Regions from separate parts of the Homo sapiens genome. Here region 1 is linked to region 2. The links come from fine-mapping of genetic effects on gene expression. A gene starts in region 2. The other region holds a variant in brackets. All regions are shown on one strand. Distances are from middle to middle.

Region 1 (8,316 bases), 34 kb after region 2:
TCCTCCACTTGGGCTGGAGATGGAGTGACTCTGCTTCCTCCTCCGAGCAGCTGCTGGGCCCTGAGGGAGGACTGACCAGGCTGGCCCTGAACCAGGTGGGAAAACATATTTAATTCTCACCCTGCACCAGGAATCAGCCCATTACAGTCCCCAGGCCAAATACAGCCTGCCACCAGATTGGAAAACAATCTAAAGAAGATTTCATGACACATGAAAATGATATGAAATTCACGTTTCAGTGTCTATAAATAAAGTTTTATTGGAACACAGCCACACCCATTCATTTATGGCTGATTTTGCCCTGCAAAAGCAGTTGAAAAGCTATAGCAGTGACTGTCCGGTCCACAAAGCCTAAAATGTTTACCATCTGGCCCTTTGCAGAAAAGGTTTGTTGCCTGGTATCCTAGGCTCTCCAGCCACCATGCACCCAGCTGTCGCCTCTGCTCCAGCGCTGTTTCCGGTTTATGATGTGGAGTGAACAGAACCTCCCTCAGAGCATGGCGGTGAGGACTCCAGGTTTACCGTCGGCTGCTGGGCGGCATGGGTATCCCCAGGTCATGCTTTCTTAACTCCAATACACAGAAGCTGAGCACTTGTAGAGGCTGCTCTGGGCCTGGTAGAGGGCTGGCCTGATACCCAAGGTCTGCCCCCCAAGGGACACACACGGAGTTGGGGCATGGAGACCATGAAGTTGGAGGGGCACAGAGGAGAGACAGGAGCCTGACCTGGAATGCACAGATGGCTCCCAGAGGGAGTGATACTCAAACTAAGTCTTCTTTTAATTTTTAAAAGACAGAGTCTCTCTCTGTTGGCCAGGCTGGAGTGCAGTGGCTCACTGCAGCCTTGAACCCCTGGGCTCAAACAGTCCTCCCACCTCCACCTCCCTAGTAGCTAGGACTACAGGCATGCACCACCATACCCAGCTTATTTTTTAATTTTTTGTAGAGATAGGGTCTCACTATGTTGCCCAGGCCAGTCTTGAACTCCTGGGCTCCAGCAATCCTCCCAATGCAGCCTCCCAAAATTCTGGGATTACAGGCATGAACCGCCACATCTGGAAGCTAAGTCTTAAAATATAAGCAGAAATTATCCAGGAGGAAGGAGCAGGGACAAGCCTTGCAAGTGGAGAGAACAGCTTCAGCAAAGCTCAGAGGCTGAGAGTGGCAGGTCTGGACCTGGTTGGTGGGGAACTTGTAGAACCAGGTGATGGGGGGCTGTGGGCAATGAGAGCTCACCCTTCATCACCAGCCCCACCCACCACCTGGGTTTGGCCCAGGCTGGCAAGGGTGCCTGCCGAAGGCAGATATTGGCATCTGGCAGGGTGAGGTGGGGCATTGAGGGCAGAAGAGGGGGTGCCTTCAGGACCCCACCGCTGGCCAGCAGGGACACTGCAATTGGAGGAGCCAGATGGTGGGCAGGGCCTGGGGGCTCATCCCAGCAGGGCTGGGGTGCCAGGGCTGGGGCCGCCTGGTCCTGCCCCTGCCCCTGGGGCAGCCGGCAGAGTCCAGAGATGAGGCAGGCTGCCACAGGCGGGTAGCTGGCAACAGAGGCCTATTCTTCAGGATTTAAAAAGTCTCAAAAGGCGTCCAACTTTCCTTCGTTAGATGCTCCGGGATGTTTCCCCGTCAGAGGCTGCTCAAGATACCGGGCTGATAAGGGCCCGATTGAAGGAAGCTTAATTATGGCCCCGAGATGTTGGGGTAAACAGTCGGGAGTGTTTGTTTTACCGCCTCCTCTCTGTGCTAATGGGGGCACAAGCTAGGTGCCAGCTAGGGGGACCCAGTGACCCCAGGCTTTGTGGGTTCCCCTCACTGTCTCCCCATGGAGCGGGCCTTGGGGAGGGAGGCCGCTGGCCAGAGTTCGGCATCTCTGCAGTGTGGGTGCCAGGCTCCACAACCTCCTGCCCATTTGGCCACAGGGTACTCACCTGTCCGTGACAAGGATGGACATCGGGCATTAAAGGAGCTGTCCGTGTTGGTGCCTGGCATGGAGTGAACGCTGGGTGAATTCTGGACAGCAGCGGCAGCCTGGGGCTAGGGGCAGCTGGTAGCAGGAGTTTCCCTGGCGCTGTCCTGACCTTGACCCAGGCCACAACCCCCCAGAGGATGCATCTGGCTCCTCAACTCCATCCCGGGACCCCTGGATGGGCAGGGAGGTAGACCGGGGCTCGGCCTCTCAGCACCGTCCCCCATTTACCCCCACACCCCATCCCAAGGCCAGGATGTTCCTGGGGTGCCCAAGCCTGGTAAAGCACCCCTCCTGTGGGCATCACAACTCCAGGGGATCAGGGGCCACCATCCTGTGTGCCCTCCCTGGCGTGTGCCCACCTCCTACGCCCTCCCCCAACACCCACCACAGGCTCCCCCTGAGTGAGGAGTCCCAGGAGTAAGGGGAGCCCACTCTGTCACCCTGCACTCCCTCGAGGGCCCAGGGGCTCCAAAGGGCACAGCTCAGCTTTATTTAAGGGAGCAGCTCTGCTCAGGGGAAGGGGGCAGGGGGAGTGGGAGGAAAAGGATGGTGCCCCCTAGACATGCGTAGAGGCACACTCACCCAGACACACACACACACACACACACACACACACACACCCTCACCATGTACTGCCCAGGCCGGGCCAGGCCTTCTATTCCCTCGGCATCCAGGAATCTGCAGCTCTGCTCCCTGGCAGGCAGGGGTCACCGGCTCAGGGGGTCACAGGCTCAGGGCACCCCCCTACCCCGTGTGTGTGTATTTGCTCATCCACACACATAGGCCAACACGGTGCCCGTAAGTGTCTGCACCATGTGCCTGGGAGGGAGCAGGAGGAAGGGGAGACCAGGCAATCCATATTTTGGGTCCCTTGCGTGAGGCGGGAAGGGCACAAGGGGGCCGTTTAGGGTCACTCCAGCAGGACCCAGGCCCTCCGTGGCCTGGGCAGGTGCTCACATGACAGGCTCCATCGGAGGAGCTGTGGGAGTCTCTTGGGAAAGGGCCACAGTTCACCCTTTGGCAGATGTCACCGCCCCCAGAGGCTCGGAGCCCCCCTCGCTCTGTGGCTGTCCTTCAGGCTGGGGTGACCAGCCCCCCGCCAGGCCTTCAGCTGAGACCAAGAAGCCATTTTGGTCCGTGATGAGAAGAGGAAGTTCCTGCAGCCCCAAAACAGAAACAGGAAGCTGGGAGGGGGGCACAGGGATAGGGAACGGGAAGGGGACGCAGGCACCCGGCAGATGCACCCCAAATATGGGGCCTTCCTGGGGCCCACAGCAGCAGCCATGTCTGGGTGTCTCTGCCCAGTCCCAATGCTGTGGGCCTCATCTGGGCCCAGCTGTGCCCACCAGGAGGGCAGACTCCCTGGGGACCTCAGATGCCCGCCC[G/A]CTCCCTGCCTGAGTGGCTCAGTTGCCCAGGCTTATCTGGCTCTGACTGAGAGGGCTCTGTGAGTGGCTGGAACCCCTCTGTCCACCCAGATGTGCCTGGCCACGTGCCTCTCCTTGGCCCCCAAGCGTAGCCCTGTGGGATTCTCCGCAGCGCTGGCCTGACTCCTTGACTCAGCAAGTCCAGGTCACCCTCTGTCCCCACCTCTGACCGAGCCCCCTGGTCGTGAGTCTGTGCGGCCGCCTGTTGGGTTCTGCTGTTCGCCACTGAGTCCCAGCCCTGGCCGTTTCCCCAGCTGTGATGTGACAGGGTCCCAGGCCCTCACCCAAACTTGGTAACAACACTCAGGACTGCCTGCTCAGCAGAGGTGGAGCCTGGACTCTGTTCCCCGGGGCCCCCTGCCTCACACTGTGTCCTGACCAGCCTGCCCTTTGCAGACCCCTCCTGCTCTGTGAGATGAGAGATGGAGTGTCTGAGAAACGTGCATGGGTCCCAGCCCGTTGTGCCCCCAAGCGGAGGGACGACAGGATCTAGAACCACGCACCAACCTCCGGAAGTGGGGCAGCTCCCAGTTCACGCAAGGGCGAGCTAGGCTGGGGCCACGTGGAAGGCAGGACAGCAGCTCCCACTCAGGGTGGGCATTGCCTGTGGCTCCTCGCTGGGTCTGGAGGCTCCTTCAGGAAGACTCTGGGGGTGAGGGAGCGGGGGCGGGAGTCAAGGGACCAGAGAGGCACATGTCACCAATTTCAGTTCTGCCCCAGCTGGCCTGAGGCAGCTCGGGACTTCCCAGGGTGGAAGGATAGGTCCGGGGGCCAGGCTACTTGGAGGCAGGGCCAGGTCTTGAGGACCCCCTCCCCAGCCCAGCTGTCTGCCGGGGAGGCAGCTCTGGGTTCCTGGAGTGGGCTGGCTACGGAGGTGTGTGCCTCCCTGGCGGCCCTCATCTCTCCCGGAGCCCTAGAGCAGGTCTTTCTAAGACTTCCCACTCATCAGCCCCGGCCCAAGATTATCACTACAAAAGACGTCCTTGGCCCACTGTCCCCTCAAAATGAAAGCTTTAAGAACAGCTGCCCAGAGGTGTCTGAGAAAAACTCCAGGATGAGAGTGAGGGGTACCAGGCCGTCAGCTCTCCCCAGGCTGAAGGATGAGGTGGAAACCACGAAAGCCCCCAAAACAAAGCCATCTTCTCCACACCTCCAGGCTGTTCCCTAAAGAAGGAAAGCGGGGAATGGGGTGGGGAGGGCGAGTGGAGCCCCCGCCTCGGGCGGTCAGCACCGGCGTCAGCAGGGAAGCAGGCCCCTGGCCAGGGAGCGCATCTGACCGGACCGACCGTGTTCTTGGGAGATCAGTTGTGAAACTTGCATCAAACCCCCAAACCACAAAAACGGCCAGTTTTCCCAGCTCTGTTCTCATGCTTCTCAGACCAGCCGAGGAGTCTTCAGCATCTCCAGCCGAGAGAAGCCAGGCCAGCTGCCAGCGCCGGGGGAGGAGAAAACCCCAAGTGCCTGGAGACCCGAGCCCCAAGTTTGCCTGAAGCACCCTGCTCCCTTCAACGAGCCTGGGAATGTGAGGTCTGGAGAAAGGGTGAGGCCTGGGCCGGCTCCACTGCACCTGGAGCCGGGTGCAGTGGCTCACGCCTGTAATCCCAACACTTTGGGAGGCCAAGGTGGGAGGATCGCTTGAGCCCAGGAGTTCAAGCACAACGTGGGCAACATAGCAAGACCCTGTCTCTACAAAAAATACAAATACTAGCCCAGTATGGTGACACATGCCTGTAATTCCAGCTACTCAGGAGGCTGAGGTGGGAGGATCACTTGATCCCACTAGTCTGAGGCCAGCTTGGGCAACATAGTGAGACCCTATCTCTATAAAAAATTAGCCAGGCATAATGGTGCTCACCTGTGGTCCCAGCTACTCAGAAAGCTGAGGCAGGAGAATCACTGAGTCTGCTAGTTTGAGACCAGCTTGGGCAACATAGTGAGACCCCATCTCTATAAAAAGTTAGCCAGGCATGGTGGTGCATGCCCGTAGTCCCAGCTACACAGGAGGCTGGGGCGGGAGGATCACTGGAGCCCAGGAGTTTGAGGCTGCAGTGAGCTGTGTTCGTGCCACTGCACTCCAGCCTGGGCAACAAAGCAAGACCCTATAATTAATAAATAAATAAATAAATAAATAAATAAATAAATAAATGGAAAAAGAAAACTGGAAATCAGAATAGAAGGACCCAGAAGCTGCCAGGGCCACCTCAGAAAGAATTCTGGAACACTGTTGCCTTGGGAAGATAACATCTGGCTGATGGAAGGTCAGAGGCAGGTTACCAGGGAAAGACTCCTGTTTGAAAAGAAGGTCACCGAGGCATCCCTCGTGTCTTCCCACTGCATTTGGTGCACAGCACATGACTCTGGTTCTCTCTCATTCAGGGCCTGGTTATAGCAGAAAGTCTGGCTCTCACTGAGCAAGGACCCAGATGGGGACACTCAGAGAGGTGGGAAAGAATCTCCCCCACCCCGCCAAGGAGGGATGCAGCTGTGCTGTAAGTGATGGTTAAAGCCATCTTTAAGAGAGGCAGGGCGCCATGGCTCACTCTTCTAATACCAGTGCTTTAAGAGGCTGAGGCAGGAGAATTGCTTAAGGCCAGGACTTTGAGACTAGCCTGGGCAACACAGCCATCTCTACAAAAAATACAGAAATTGGCTGGGCATGGTGGTGCCCACCTGTAGTCTCAGCTACTCAGGAGGCTGAGGTGGGAGGATCACTTGAGCCCGGCAGTTTGCAGCTGCGGTGAGCTATGATCGCACCCCAGCACTCCAGCCTGGGAGACAGAGTGAGACACTGTCTCTAAAAAGAAAGAGGGAAGAGAGAAGATGCCCGTAGCTGCTTTAGGTGACAAACGGCCTTGAAGCCGTGAAGGCCCACTCCCTTCCACAGGGAATGCAGCCCCATCTCCGCAAGCCAGTCTCTGAGGCCACCCCTTCTTGCTTCCTCCGCCAGATACCCTGCCCAGCCCCCTCCCCCAAAATGAAGCCAGGTGGGGACCCTCTGTGCTGCTGGCCTCCAGGCCCTGCCCTGCTGCCCCTGCCTTCAGCCCCTACCACCCACACCACCCTGAAACCCTTCCTCTCCCTGGCCACTGTACCTCTCCCAGACCGGCGGTTTGCCTCCAGCTGGAGCCTCCTGGAGGCTGGGAGAGAACCCCTCGCCTGGGTTAACTTTAGTGGTGATTCTAGAAGCAGGACGCTGCTGAGGAAAAGGCCAAACTGTAGCTTTGTCCGCTCCACCCCAAGCCTTTGCCTGAGCTGGAACTTTCCTCTAACAAGCCCTGTAAGAGGAGCTTCACACCATGCTCCCTGTGTGAACCATGGTACCTGTGAGTATTGGCAATGATATTATGCCAATGTGCTATTATGTGCATTTAGCATAAAAGCCACTTGTAAGTAGTCACGTGGCAAGACCACGGCTGGGGCCCAGAGAATCCTGCTGGGGGCCCATAACATGGGATTGGCCCCCTGGAGCTAAGGCCAGGGCTGCAGTGCAGGAGGCCCACACCCGCAGGGGATCCTGCCCGAGGGGCAGGGCTGGATGAGAGGCAGTGAGCCCAGAGCATAGACAGAAGACAGTGGGCGTGTGTGTGTCTTGGTCACTGCGTGCGTCTCTAGGTAACTTTGGTTTGCACGTTTGTGAGGTTGAGCGTCTGTCAATGTGAGTTTCCGTGCATGGCTGGTGACTGCATTTGTGTGTCTGTGCATGGGCCTGGGTACATCCGTGTCTCTCGGTGTGTTTATGGATCTGTTCATTCAATCACTGCCTGGTGCGGCCAGGCCCTAGACAGACTGGAGGGCTCGGTCCCTGCCCCATCAGGCCCACAGTCTGGCAGGAGGTGAGCAGGAAGTAGGAATTACACCCATAATCCCTAGGCAGGATGGTGACAGGGGGAGCTCACGCCTCGAGGGTGGAAGCCCCGAGACAAGGGACCTGCTGCAGCTTGGCACTCGGGGACCCTGGATGCTTTCATGAAGGACAGGAAAGCCGAGTGCCATAGGAGGCATGGGAGTTGTCATGGGGAGGAGAGTTTTCCAGGCAGAGGGGAGAGCATTTGCAAAAGCCGGGGCACTGAGGAGGGGTCGAGGCAGAACTGCAGGTGCTAGGAAGCCAAGGGGTGTGGGAGGTGAGGGCAGGAAGGACAGGAGCTAGACACGCAAGCCTGGAGGCCACCATGATAATGGTGGCTGCTTCCTAGAACCGTGGGAAGGTGAAGTTCGGAAAGCAGCCCGATCATGTGGTCATTTAATAATACGACCATTCTGGGCCGGGCACGGTGGCTCACGCCTGTAATCCCAGCACTTTGGGAGGCCAAGGCGGGCAGATCACGAGGTCAGGAGATCGAGACCATCCCGGCTAACACAGTGAAACCCCATCTCCACTAAAAATACAAAAAATTAGCCGGGGGTGGTGGCGGGCACCTGTAGTCCCAGCTACTCGGGAGGCTGAGGCAGGAGAATGGCGTGAACCTGGGAGGCGGAGCTTGCAGTGAGCTGACACTGCACCACTGCACTCCAGCCTGGGCGACAGAGCAAGACTCCATCTCAAAAAAATAAAATAAAATAAAATAATAATAATAATATGGCCACTCTGTTGGCTAAGAGCCTGGATGAGGCCAGAGCTGCCATCCCATGAAGAGAGATGGTGGCTGGGGACGTGGGGCGGCAGGGGAAGACGTGGACAGGTGCGGGCATGCAGAGGCAATGGAAGGGTGACAGGCAAGGCCTGGCGACGGCTCAGGTGTCAAGGGCCAGGAGGTGTACATGCTGTGTGTGCACACGTGTGCACGTGAGCCTGTACAAACGCCTGCCAGGAGCTCAGGCCAGGCCCTCTCTCCTCTCCCTCTCCCCTCTCCAATCTCTTGCCCGTGTCCCCCACAGCCTCGCCGCGGACATGACAGTGACGGTAAGAAGGACTCAGTGTTGCAAC
Region 2 (8,316 bases):
CCCAAGTCCTGACATCTTGTTCTAATCTACCCTGCCCGCTCATTACTGGGGCAATACAAGTCTCCATCCTTTCCCATCTGGTCAACACCCCCTCTCCGTCTTGGCCAGAGTAGATTCTCAGGAACCCAAATCCGACAACGAAGCTCCCCTGCTAAAATCTGGAGGTCAAAAGCCTGGGAGATAAGGGTTCCCCCTTCACCTGCAGTGGCCTTGGCCATCAGCCCAGCCCTGTCTGCGGATCCAGCCTTATCTAGGCCCCACCCTCCCTCACCCCACTCTCCAGCCGGCCAACCATCTCGTTCTTTGTTACCAGAACACATGCACTGGCAGGCTCTCCACCTTTGCACTTACCATTCCCTCCTCCTAGAAGAGCCTTCCTCCCTTATCCTTCCAGCAAATTCCTGCTCAACTTTCAAGGCCCAGCTCAAAGGTCTGCTCCTGCATGAAGCCCTGTCTCACCGCCGGTTCAGTCCAAGCAGGCTGCCATCATAGACCTACCATAAACATTTATTTCTCATGGTTCTGGAGGCTGGATGCCCAAGGCCAAAGCCAAGCTGCCAGCACCCTCAGGTTCTGGTGAGGGGCCTCTTCCCTGCTTGCAGACGGCCACCTCCTTTCTGTGCATGCCCATGACATTGTTCTTCTGATAAGGCCACCAATCCTATCAAATTAGGACCCTACCCATATGACATCATCTCACTTTAATGACTTCCTAAAAGCCTTATCTCCAAATACAGTCACATGGGGGTTAGGCCTTCAACATAGGAATTTGGGGCAGGGACACAGTTCAGTCCATAACACCTCCGCAGACAAATCTGATCTCTGCCTCCTCCACAGCGCCACCTTGTTCAGGGCAGGACTTCTCTTCATCACAGCACATCCACCCTTGATTCCCATTTGTGCCTCGTGTGCATTTGATGAATGAATGAAGTCCCATCCCCTACTCCTTCTGTCTCCTCCTTCCTCCCAGCAGCCTCTGTGTGACAACTTATCCGTCTCTCCCACTGTCCCAGTTCCCAGAGGCAGGAGCCACCCTCTCATGCATCCCTGGGCTCTCGGCACCCTGCACAGGGCAGGCCCGGGTGGGTGAATTCTGGTTCAATTGTAGGAGGACCTGTGGCCCCTGGGGTTGGCGAACCCCGGGCCGGGAGTCCCACTCCTTGCCATTGTCGCCCCCACACATTCATCAGCCCCCTATTGGACAAAGTCTTATTCCCATTACTGAGGTTTCTTCCAGTCCTACGGGGCAGAGTTCCCGATCTCTGGGCAGGCAACAGCAGCTGTGCAAAAAAGGCCAGACATCGCCTTCCTCCCACAACTCCACAGGCCGGGAACCGTGCATGTACAGTGGCGTTTCTTTGTTCCTAGGTAGGAAAAGCCATTAGTTTTAGCACCGCAGAAAAAAACGCAAATCGCTCTTGGTGCTTTTTGATTTCCGTCCAGGTCTCCCTCCACAGGTGAATGCTATATGAATGGGTCCTGCATTTGGCTCAGCAAGCAGCTCTCCGGCTCACATCGGGATATTTATTTAACGTATCTGGTTTTTACTCCCTCCCGTCCAAAAGCGTCAAGCTAAAAATATCTTGTTTATGAGCTCTGGACCGAAAACGAAGCAGTTGGGCTATTAATCACTGGGACTATGTTGAATAGGAACTTGATTAAAGCGCAGTGTGCGTTGCCCAGATGAAACTGCTTCTTTACTGCGATCGTCGTGGAAGCTCGGGGCTCTCCAGCGGTGTTTTTAGCTGTGCCCCCTCCGGGGCTCCTGGGCGGGTCGTGGCGCCTTGCCAGGCCTAAGGCCACTGTCGGTGAAGGGGGTCTTCCCTCACCTGTAGGCAAGCGCGCCTCTAGCCGGGACGCAGGCGGCGTCAGGCCTCAGCGCCAGTGGCGAGGGGCGGCGCGGGCAAGGACAGGAGACACTTGAGGGCTCCCAAGACTCCATCTGGGCCCAGCTGACGGTCCGTAGCCGCCACCCCGGCCCCGGTAAAGAATGCGAGGGACGCACGTGGCTGGGGGTCTCGGTGGCAAGCTCCTTCCCCCGCCGCGGTGAGAGCATTAGCTGCCGCACTCAAGGGGCCCCAGGGCCTGGCCGCCTCGGTCCCTAGGATCCCGGGGACTACAGCGCCCGGCGAACCACTGGGCAGAGTTCTCCCTGTGCGTGCTCGGACCTGGCAGCCCGGCGGCCTGGACACCCTCGCTCCCGCCGTTGGCGCCCACCTGAATGGGGAGGCGGGGGAGGAAGCGGTGGCTTCGGGCCTCGAGGGCTGCGGCCCCCGCCTCGGAATCCCGGCCCCAGAGTTAAGTTTGTCTCCTCCCTCGGTGCGCCCCTCCCCGTGCTCGCCCCGGCGTCCAGCTCCGCTAGTCTGGGGGGCCCCGCGGTCCCGCAGGAAAAAAAATCGGCGACTCCACGCCGGGTAACAGCGCCGGCCCCGCGCGCCTAGCAAGCCGCGCGCTCCGACCTGGAGAAGTAATTATAAAGAAAGTTTTCCAGCCCGGGCGGATCGACCGGCCAGGTCCTCCAGGCTCCCGGGCCGAGGCCGCCTCCGCTCCCCGCGGGGTCCTAGCGCCCTGCGCGGCGCCGCCCATGGGACCCCGGCGTCCTCCGAGAGGTACCTCTGCGCGGAATCACAGGGGTAGCCTGGAGATCAGAGCTAGGAGACGCAGAGCCACCGCGCTCAGGACCTCTCCGCGCGTCCCAAACGGCCCCCCACCGGCCCCAGCCCCGCTGCTCTGCGCTGCAGCCTCCCCGGGACGCGGGTCCGGGACAGGCCTGGTTCTGGCTTTGAAAGAGAATCCGCGCCCCAGCAGCTCAAGACCAAGACTCGCCCTCCGCCCCCCACCCCTACCCCGTGCAGCCTCGGGATACTCCTGGGCTCCCGGCCGTGGCTGGATACGGGCGCCTAGGGCAGGCAGGAGGAGGGGGCCCCCGCTACCGACCACGTGGGCGCGGGGGCGACGGCCGGGCCGGGGGCGGAGCTTGGAGCGAGCGCCGCGGCTCTGCTGGGCGCGCTGGAGGCGGTGGGCGTTGCGCCGCGGCCTGCCTGGGGAGCGCGGCGCTGTGCCGCGCTGGTTCGCCGCCCCATGCCGGCCGCGCGCTAGGACCCAGCAGGCGCCGCGCCGCCGCAGCCCGGGGACAGAGGCCGCCTCGGACTCTAGGGGGCGACGCGGCCTGCCGGGTATAAAAGCTGGGCCGGCGCGGGCCGGGCCATTCGCGACCCGGAGGTGCGCGGGCGCGGGCGAGCAGGGTCTCCGGGTGGGCGGCGGCGACGCCCCGCGCAGGCTGGAGGCCGCCGAGGCTCGCCATGCCGGGAGAACTCTAACTCCCCCATGGAGTCGGCCGACTTCTACGAGGCGGAGCCGCGGCCCCCGATGAGCAGCCACCTGCAGAGCCCCCCGCACGCGCCCAGCAGCGCCGCCTTCGGCTTTCCCCGGGGCGCGGGCCCCGCGCAGCCTCCCGCCCCACCTGCCGCCCCGGAGCCGCTGGGCGGCATCTGCGAGCACGAGACGTCCATCGACATCAGCGCCTACATCGACCCGGCCGCCTTCAACGACGAGTTCCTGGCCGACCTGTTCCAGCACAGCCGGCAGCAGGAGAAGGCCAAGGCGGCCGTGGGCCCCACGGGCGGCGGCGGCGGCGGCGACTTTGACTACCCGGGCGCGCCCGCGGGCCCCGGCGGCGCCGTCATGCCCGGGGGAGCGCACGGGCCCCCGCCCGGCTACGGCTGCGCGGCCGCCGGCTACCTGGACGGCAGGCTGGAGCCCCTGTACGAGCGCGTCGGGGCGCCGGCGCTGCGGCCGCTGGTGATCAAGCAGGAGCCCCGCGAGGAGGATGAAGCCAAGCAGCTGGCGCTGGCCGGCCTCTTCCCTTACCAGCCGCCGCCGCCGCCGCCGCCCTCGCACCCGCACCCGCACCCGCCGCCCGCGCACCTGGCCGCCCCGCACCTGCAGTTCCAGATCGCGCACTGCGGCCAGACCACCATGCACCTGCAGCCCGGTCACCCCACGCCGCCGCCCACGCCCGTGCCCAGCCCGCACCCCGCGCCCGCGCTCGGTGCCGCCGGCCTGCCGGGCCCTGGCAGCGCGCTCAAGGGGCTGGGCGCCGCGCACCCCGACCTCCGCGCGAGTGGCGGCAGCGGCGCGGGCAAGGCCAAGAAGTCGGTGGACAAGAACAGCAACGAGTACCGGGTGCGGCGCGAGCGCAACAACATCGCGGTGCGCAAGAGCCGCGACAAGGCCAAGCAGCGCAACGTGGAGACGCAGCAGAAGGTGCTGGAGCTGACCAGTGACAATGACCGCCTGCGCAAGCGGGTGGAACAGCTGAGCCGCGAACTGGACACGCTGCGGGGCATCTTCCGCCAGCTGCCAGAGAGCTCCTTGGTCAAGGCCATGGGCAACTGCGCGTGAGGCGCGCGGCTGTGGGACCGCCCTGGGCCAGCCTCCGGCGGGGACCCAGGGAGTGGTTTGGGGTCGCCGGATCTCGAGGCTTGCCCGAGCCGTGCGAGCCAGGACTAGGAGATTCCGGTGCCTCCTGAAAGCCTGGCCTGCTCCGCGTGTCCCCTCCCTTCCTCTGCGCCGGACTTGGTGCGTCTAAGATGAGGGGGCCAGGCGGTGGCTTCTCCCTGCGAGGAGGGGAGAATTCTTGGGGCTGAGCTGGGAGCCCGGCAACTCTAGTATTTAGGATAACCTTGTGCCTTGGAAATGCAAACTCACCGCTCCAATGCCTACTGAGTAGGGGGAGCAAATCGTGCCTTGTCATTTTATTTGGAGGTTTCCTGCCTCCTTCCCGAGGCTACAGCAGACCCCCATGAGAGAAGGAGGGGAGCAGGCCCGTGGCAGGAGGAGGGCTCAGGGAGCTGAGATCCCGACAAGCCCGCCAGCCCCAGCCGCTCCTCCACGCCTGTCCTTAGAAAGGGGTGGAAACATAGGGACTTGGGGCTTGGAACCTAAGGTTGTTCCCCTAGTTCTACATGAAGGTGGAGGGTCTCTAGTTCCACGCCTCTCCCACCTCCCTCCGCACACACCCCACCCCAGCCTGCTATAGGCTGGGCTTCCCCTTGGGGCGGAACTCACTGCGATGGGGGTCACCAGGTGACCAGTGGGAGCCCCCACCCCGAGTCACACCAGAAAGCTAGGTCGTGGGTCAGCTCTGAGGATGTATACCCCTGGTGGGAGAGGGAGACCTAGAGATCTGGCTGTGGGGCGGGCATGGGGGGTGAAGGGCCACTGGGACCCTCAGCCTTGTTTGTACTGTATGCCTTCAGCATTGCCTAGGAACACGAAGCACGATCAGTCCATCCCAGAGGGACCGGAGTTATGACAAGCTTTCCAAATATTTTGCTTTATCAGCCGATATCAACACTTGTATCTGGCCTCTGTGCCCCAGCAGTGCCTTGTGCAATGTGAATGTGCGCGTCTCTGCTAAACCACCATTTTATTTGGTTTTTGTTTTGTTTTGGTTTTGCTCGGATACTTGCCAAAATGAGACTCTCCGTCGGCAGCTGGGGGAAGGGTCTGAGACTCCCTTTCCTTTTGGTTTTGGGATTACTTTTGATCCTGGGGGACCAATGAGGTGAGGGGGGTTCTCCTTTGCCCTCAGCTTTCCCCAGCCCCTCCGGCCTGGGCTGCCCACAAGGCTTGTCCCCCAGAGGCCCTGGCTCCTGGTCGGGAAGGGAGGTGGCCTCCCGCCAACGCATCACTGGGGCTGGGAGCAGGGAAGGACGGCTTGGTTCTCTTCTTTTGGGGAGAACGTAGAGTCTCACTCTAGATGTTTTATGTATTATATCTATAATATAAACATATCAAAGTCAATGTCGGTGTCTTTTTAAAACCAGAAAGAAGCTACTTCCAAGGTTGTCTGTGGGCCAGGTCACATTTGTAAATAATACAGCATTTTCCCTGGCGGCAATCCTGACTTTCATGAGCTCTCCATCCATCCTGAGCCCCTCTTACCCTAAGGGGGTGACTTACTTCCCCCAGGCAAGACAAATAAATAGCAGAGGACAAGGCTCCAAATGGAGTATGTCCAGAGCCTGAAGGCAGTCTCTTGGGGTCAGGGGAGGGGGCTGAAGGGGTTACTGGGCTGAGGCCTTGGCGAGGCTTCTTATCTGCCCCGGGGAGGAGGAGAGGGAGTCCTCTGCCTGAGGGGTAGGCCTGGCTAAGCAGCCCTAGGCTCAAGGAGCCCTTTGTGCAGACTTCCTTGCAAATCACCTACAGCTGCAGCCCTGGCCACTCACACACACCGCAGCTCCAGATTCCAGCAGGACCCTCGGCCAGCAGGAAGAGGCCTCCAGTGGTAGGACCCTCCAACCCTCTCCTCTTTCCCTAGACCATGTGGCTACACCCTACCCCTGCGAGGCCCGAAGGCAGCCTGAAGAGAGAGACCCCTCCATCCAGCCCTCCACACCTGCCCAGCCCCAGCCCTCACAAGAAAGGGGGCTGAGGCAGGCCTGCAACAGGGGTCTGGTCCTGCCCCACACACTGGCTGTTCAAGAACCCACCCAGCATCCACACTCCCCACTGCATTCATCCCAGACCCAGCAGGGGACTGAGTGCTGGTGTGCCCCCAACTCCAATGAGCACCCTGTAAGGTCAGGCACTCCGGCACCCCCTTAGCAGCAGTGACAGCCAAGCAAGGGAGGGCAGCCCTTATCCCTGAACTAACAAGGCCCGGGAGAAAGAGGCCCAGGAGGCTGATGGTGCTTTTCAGATTTTACCCTCACGGAGGGTAAAAGATAAATTGCACTTTTCTTTTTTTTTTAACTCTGTACCGAGAGAATGTTCACTGAGTGGCTTACTGTGTGTACCAATGCGGGCTGGGGCATTTTCGAGAAATTACACATTCCTTTTACACTCTGGAAGCTTAGCTTTACCTGCCTGCGTGGTTAGCTGGCACCCCTTCCGGCCCCCCACTCTGTCCTGTGTCTGGCCGCCTCCTCACCCACGGCCGCCCTTGGCAGAGGAGAGGCCACGAGCCCAGTGAGGAGGCGGCGCCTGCCCCGCCACCCTGGGAACAGAGGAGGCAGAGCCCCGCCGCGTGCCCCGAGGCCTGGGGCAGGTCGCAGCTTGCTAAGCCCCAGCAAACCCTCTGAGTTCAGTGCTAATTCCAGTTTTTCTTGTTTGAGGGGGCTGATCCCTGGCTTCCCCCTTTCCCCCCAGAACAGGTCCTAGGACGGGAGGGGGTGGGGCGACCCTCCTGCCCTCACTCCTTCCCCTCCTCTCTGCTGTGCCAGCCCGCTAGGGGCTTCCTCTTTTAAAGCTGATGGCTCCCGGAAGGGATCCCTCCTACCCCGAGTCCTCCTCCTGGTCCTGAGTTCCAGGGTGGGCTTTGTTAGGGACAAGAAGGATCCAATCACATCCAGCCCCAGGAAAGGGATGAGGAGGGCGAGGCCCCCGGGGGGGGCCAAAGTAGAGGGGAGGAAGGTCTTTTGGGCGGCATGGGGTGAACCTGCCCAGCATGTACCCCGTGTCCAGCTGTAGGGGCTTCCCGGGAACAGAGTCACCCTTGGCCACCCACCGCTTCCTGCAGGGTTCCTCACAGTTCCCCTCCTGACTACAGCCTTCAGGAAGAACCATTCCAAGAGCCCAGCACTGAACACACCTCAAGTATTTATCAGATGCCTACTGTATGCCAGGGCCTGCGCCAAAGATGGGGCACTGGGCTGGGAACAAGCCGACTCTGCTCTGGCTCTTGGGGAGCTCACACCCTTGAGGCCCTAAGCTGTGGTTTAAGGTTGCCAAGTGCAATGAAGGGGATCTCAGAGTGTGAACAGGGTCCACCAGGGAGGGCTTTATGGAGGCAGCAGCTTTGATGAAATACCTGGGGAGGGTGGCCTCCTGCTGGCCCCAGTCCCAAGATGCCTGGATGCTTCTCCTTTGCCCTGATCGATCTCCCCTTGACATGTAGCACCTGACTGCAGGGACCTCGCCCCCCTTGCTGCGCCACTCCTGAGCCCTGTGTCCCGTGACAGCGCTGTTCAGGGTTAGCTGGCCTTCAAGGAAAGGGCAAGGGTAGAAGGGAGGGAGGCATCTCCTCTGCTGCCAGATGCGTCCTGATGGCTTAGTGCTGTCACGGATATTACTGTTATCTCCTGGATCTCCTGGGAATCTGTGAACGTGGGGTTTGGCCCTGACACCTGCGATGAGCCACTGGGCCTGGTGAGGAGTGTCTGCCCCTCCCAGCTCTCCCACCTGCTCCTTCCCAGGCAGGAACCTGCCAGGCCTCCTCCAGGAGCTGCTGGTCTCACAGGAGGGGAAGGGGCCACTCATGGGGAAGGACAAGGGATAGCAGAAACCCCTGACTTTGTTTAGCCAAGAGGG

Evidence for each region.
Region 1: its variant is fine-mapped to the expression of CEBPA in whole blood (TOPMed, PIP above 0.99).

Annotation. Positions count from the first base shown.
Region 1 is chr19:33,263,603-33,271,918 of GRCh38, reverse strand. No RefSeq gene overlaps it. Among named protein-coding and RNA genes, the nearest start is that of CEBPA, 35 kb to the left of the region's middle. The variant G/A (reference allele first, on the strand shown) is at 3,354.
Region 2 is chr19:33,297,426-33,305,741 of GRCh38, reverse strand. CEBPA (CCAAT enhancer binding protein alpha) reads left to right here and starts at 3,208. Exons shown (of 1, transcript NM_004364.5): 1 at 3,208-5,808. The coding sequence starts at 3,328. The coding sequence ends at 4,404. CEBPA-DT (CEBPA divergent transcript) reads right to left here and starts at 2,921. Exons shown (of 1, transcript NR_026887.2): 1 at 685-2,921. RefSeq lists silencers at 2,468-2,727, 2,808-3,377.